2 separate regions of the Homo sapiens genome follow, and region 1 is linked to region 2. Evidence: fine-mapped expression QTL. Tissue or cell type: whole blood. Region 2 holds a variant in brackets; the other region holds the start of a gene. All regions are shown on one strand. Distances are from middle to middle.

What was found. PIP is the estimated chance that this variant, and not a neighbour inherited with it, causes the effect.
Region 1: TMC5-AS1 starts here. The variant in region 2 is fine-mapped to the expression of TMC5-AS1 in whole blood (INTERVAL, PIP above 0.99).

What each region holds. Positions count from the first base shown.
Region 1 is chr16:19,486,637-19,489,485 of GRCh38, reverse strand. It overlaps TMC5-AS1 (TMC5 antisense RNA 1), which reads left to right and starts at 1,585. Exons shown (of 3, transcript XR_007065016.1): 1 at 1,585-1,662; 2 at 2,166-2,557. It overlaps TMC5 (transmembrane channel like 5), which reads right to left. Exons shown (of 22, transcript NM_001261841.2): 16 at 2,466-2,541; 17 at 2,160-2,293. RefSeq lists an enhancer at 790-1,478.
Region 2 is chr16:19,583,358-19,585,857 of GRCh38, reverse strand. All of the region lies in intron 7 of VPS35L (VPS35 endosomal protein sorting factor like), which reads right to left. Among named protein-coding and RNA genes, the nearest start is that of VPS35L, 29 kb to the right of the region's middle. The variant G/TG (reference allele first, on the strand shown) is at 1,231.

The DNA of each region.
Region 1 (2,849 bases), 97 kb after region 2:
GCGGGCGCCTGTAGTCCCAGCTACTCAGGAGGCTGAGGCAGGAGAAGGGCGTGAACCTGGGAGGCGGAGCTTGCAGTGAGCCGAGATTGCGCCACTGCACTCCAGCCTGGATGACAGAGTGAGACTCTGTCTCAAAAAAATAAAAAATAAAAAAATAATTAGCCAGGCATGGTGATGTGTGCCTATAGTCCCAGCTACTCGGGAGGCTGAGGTGGGACAATCACGTGAGCCCAGGAGTTTGAGCTGTGATTGCGCCCCTGCATTCCTGCCTGGGTGGCAGAGCAAGGCCCTGTCTCAAAGAAAGAAATTGAATTAAGAAGCATAAAGAGGGAAGCCTGTTAGCTATGGAGGAATGAGCAGAAACTATAGGGCAACAAGGAACTGGTGAGGAAGAGAGAGAAGAGAGTGGATATGCCAAGAGGAGCAAGGGCGTTGTGGAGCAAGGAAGAGAGAGAAGAGAGTGGATATGCCAAGAGGAGCAAGGGTGTTGTGGAGCAAGGAACTGAGAGCCCCAGTTTCACATGTGTCCTAAAAATCATCTCCCTTGTTCATTAATTCATTCAATTGTTCATTCAACCATGGCTTATTCTGTTAAGCACTGTTCTAGTCAGGCTCTGGGGACTTCATATTAAGCAAGTTCCTGCCCTATTGGGATTACATTCTGGTGGGAAAAACGGACAATCGTTGAGTAACAATTAAAGACTCACACAGAGGCATTCCTGATTATGAATGATAGAATGAAGGAAAGAAACTCAGGTCTGAGAGAGAGAAGCAGTGGGGAACTGAGAGCAGACAAGGAGGGCTGTGAAGATCAGATCTTGGAGAGGGCCTTGGAGCTGAGAATCAGAGGGTGGAGAGGAGGCAGCCAAGCAAAGGGAGTGGGAAAAGGACTTCACTCAGAGGACTCTGCCCTTGTTGGGAGGGGCTTGCTGGCTTCCAGGAATGGGGTGAGGGTGGTGGGGCGGGGAACAGTGGAGCCAAAGGGAAGTGGGGTTGGAGAGGTGGGAGGAGCCAGATGAGTCCTGCCTTTCTGTTAATTTAGATGAAGTTCTGTTCTGGATGTGGAGGAACGGGGTGGGGGGGCATCTCCCCATTCTGGGAAGCTTCAGTTCTTGGCAGAAGTGAGAAAGCTACTCCTGACCGTGGGCATCGGATGGGTGGTGATCAAACTAGGATGCATTCCCTCCCTGGCTTTTAGTGTCTGTTGGTTAGCCAGGGAACTTGAGTTAGGCACTGTATTAAGCATGTCTTTTTATTCTGATGTTTTGACATCTGGGGTCTTACTGACTCCAGCTCCCAGGGCTAGCTGCCCTTCCCTGGGCTAGCTTACAAAGCACACCTTTCAAATGCAAACCAACCAATCCAGATCCCACACCCGCAACCGCCCCCTTTATCAGGCTCTCACACTCTGGGCCACCACTCCCCTGCCCTAATCACCCCAGGGCCAGGTGCCAGACAACTCAGGGCGGATCCATATCCCACAGCCTACTGACAAACCAGCCAACCCTAAACCTGCTTCCCCTGCCTTGCCCATTCCTTACCATAGAAAACCACAATAAAGCCTCTAGCCCGTTTCCCCTCACTCCCTCTGCCTCCTGAACAACCCTGATGCTTCCCTGTGTGGTCCCTTGTGGCATAGAGTGCCCCCTCTTCTCAGGAACTGTGAGTAATAAACTATCTTTTTAGTGATGGTCATTCCTGACCTGTTGGGCTTCACCATACCTACATTATTTATTTATTTATTTATTTATTTATTTATTTATTTATTTATTTATTTATTTATTGAGACAGAGTCTCACTCTGTCACCCAGGCTGGAGCGCAATGGTGCAATCTTGGCTCACTGCAACCTCCACCTCCCGGGTTCAAGTGATTCTCCTGCCTCAGCCTCAAGAGCAGCTGGGATTACAGGCATGCACCACCACACTTGGCTAATTTTTGTATTTTTAGTAGAGACAGGGTTTCACCATGTTGGCCAGGCTGGTCCTGAACTCCTGGCCTCAAGTGATCCACCCGCCTTGGCCTCCCATAGTGCCGGGATCACAGGCGTGAGCCACTGCACCCGGCCTCACCACACCTGAATTATAATAAAACCTACGTTTTAAAACACACACCCATCCACCCAGTCTCTAAAACCTCCCCCAAGGCCACCTTCTCCTACCTCCAGATGGTGATGGCCAGGGTGCACAAGACCCCGGTGAAGGATGGGAAAAAGAGCAAGAAGATGAAGAAAGTCATCATCTGTGAGGCCCGCCAGGCTTTGCTCGGAGGCTGGAAATTCATCATCAGGCTGATCTGAAGAGAGAGAGGCAGCCACCTCCCATCTGCAGCCGGAGCAGCGGCAGAGGGACCCCAGCCAGGCCTGGCTTCCTGACACCTTTGCAGAGCCCCCTTCCCCAGCTTTAAGCGCCACCAGGTCACAGGTGACTGAACAAAGCTGATTGATGGCAATGTCGGACTGACTCACATTTTTGGAGTAGAACATGATGAAAAGCATAATCATTTGGATAAAGGGCAGCAGGGGGCAGAAGAAGATGCCAATCCTGTGAGGGAGAGAGGGTGAGTGTCAGAGGCTGGCGGAGACACAAGGAGTCGGGGTGAATCTGGGATGGTTGGGGGGAAGAGAAAGAAGATATTGTGGCCTGGATTGTGTGTCCCCAAAATCCATATATTGAGGCCTTAACCCCGAATATCTCAGAATGTGACTGTATTTGGAGACAGGGCCTTTGAGAGGTGATTAAGGTAGAATGAGATCACTGTAGGAGGCCCTAATCCAGTACAACCGGTGTCCCTAAAAGAAGAGATTAGGAGGCCAGGAACGGTGGCTTATGCCTGTAATCCCAGAACTTTG
Region 2 (2,500 bases):
CATTGAATAGACATTTCACTATAGATATACAAATGGCCAATAAGCGTGTACAAAGATGCTCAACATCACTGTTAGGGATATACAAATTAAAACCACAATGAGGTACCACTTCAAACCCACTAGGATAGTAGGAGGGTTATAACAAAACTGATAGGCCAGGTGTGATGGCTCAGACCTGTAATCCCAGCACTTTGGGAGGCTGAGATGGGAAGATCACTTGAAGCCAGGAGTTCAAGACCAGACTGAGCAACACAGCATGGCCCTGTCTCTACAAAAAAAAAATTTTAAATAAACTGGGCATGGTTGTGGCCAATTGTAGTCCCAGCTACTCAGAAGGCTGAGGCGGGAGGATCGCTTGAGGCCAGAGTTTGAGGCTGGAGTGAGCTATGATTACACCACTGCACTCCAGCCTGGGTGACAGAGACCCTGTCTCAAAAAAAAAAAAAAAAAAGAAAAAAGAAAACAGAAGAAAAGATGGACAATACCGAGTGTCAGAGAAGATGTGGAGGAATTAGAACCCTCAGGTAAATGGTGCAGCCATCTGGAATATAGTTTGGCAGTTTCTCATCAAGTTAATCCTAACTTACCATATGACCCAGCAATTCCATTCCTAAAATTTTACCTAAGAGTAATAAAAATGTAAGTCCACGCAAATAATTGTACGCAAATGTGCAGAGCAGCATTATTCATAACAGCCAGAGAGTGGGAACAACCCAAATGCCCATCAACTTGTTAAGATAACCACACATTAGAATACGATTCAGCAGTAAAAAGGAACGAACTACCCACATGTAATATGATGTGGATGAACCTCAAACATATTATGCTAAAGAAAATAATCCAATTAAAAAATGGACAAAAGAGCTGAAGAGACATTTCTCAAAAGATGATACACAAATTAGCCAACAAGTATGTGAAAATATGCTCAGCATCACTCATCATCAGGGGAATCATCAAATGAAAACCACATGAAAATGACTACTATCAAAAAGACAAAAATAGGCTGGGCATGGTGGTATGTGCCTATAGTCCCAGCTACTTGGGAGGCTGAGGTGGGAGGATCACTTGAGTCTGGGACTTCTAGGCTGTAATGCAGAATGATCATGCCTGTGACTAGTCACTGCACTCCAGCCTGGGCAACCTCATCTCTTAATAAAAAAAAACAAAAAGAAAGAAAAAAAATGCTGATAAGAATACAGAGAAAAGGAAACTCTTTTTTTTTTTTTTTTT[G/TG]AGACAGAGTTTTGCTCTTGTTGCCCATGTTGGAGTGCAATGGTGCAATCTTGGCTCACTGCAACCTCTGCCTCCTGGGTTCAAGCGATTCTCCTGCCTCAGCTTCCCAAGTAGCTGAGATTACAGGCACCTGCCACCATGCCCAGCTAATTTTTGTATTTTCAGTAGAGATGGGGTTTTACCATGTTGGCCAGGCTGGTCTCGAACTCCTGACCTCAGGTGATCCACCTGCCTCAGCCTCCCAAAGTGCTGGGATTACAGGCGTGAGCCACCACACCCAGCCGAAAAGGGAACTCTTACACACTATGGGTGGAAATGCAAATTAGTGTAACAATTCTAGAAAACAGTATGGAAATTTCTCAAAAAACTAAAAATAGAACTACCATATGATGTAGCAATCCCACAACTAGGTTATCATCTAAAGAAAAGAAAATCAGTATATCAAAGAAATACCAGCAGTACCATGTTTACTGCAGCACTATTCACAATAGCTAAGATATGAAATCAATCTAAATGTATATAAATGGATGAATGGATAAAGAAAACATGGTACACACACAGGAATATTATTTGGCCATAAAAAAATGAAACTCTGTAATTCACAGCAACACGAATGACCCTGGAAGCCATCATGTTAAGTGAAATAGGCACAGAAAGATACATACTGCATGTCCTCACTCATATGTGGGAGCTATGAAAGTTGAGCTCATAGAAGTGGAGAGTAGAACAGCGACGACTAGAGGCTGGGAAGGGTAGGGGCAAGGGGAGAACAAAGAGGTTGGTTAACAGGTACAAAATTACAGCTACATATGAGGAATAAGTTCTAGTGTTCAATAGCACCTAGGGTGACTATAGTCCAAAATTTATTGTGTATTTTCTTTTCTTTCTGTTTTCCTTTTTTTTTTTTTGAGACAATCTCACTCTGTCACCCAGGCTGGAGTGGTGTAGTGCGATCTCGGCTCACTGCAACCTCCACCTCCCATGTTCACGCAATTCTCGTGCCTCAGCCTCCCAAGTAACTGGGATTACAGGGGTGTGCCACGAGGCCCAGCTTATTGTGTATTTTTAAATAGCTAGAGGAGAAGATTTTGAATGTTCCCAACACAAAGAAATCAGAGACGTGTGAGGTGATGAATATGCTAATTACTTGGATTTGATCATTACACACGGGATACATGTATCAAAATATCACTCTGTACCCCATAAATATGTAGAATTATTATCTATCAATTAAAAAGGCACATTACACTATGTGAGAGAAGCCAGATCC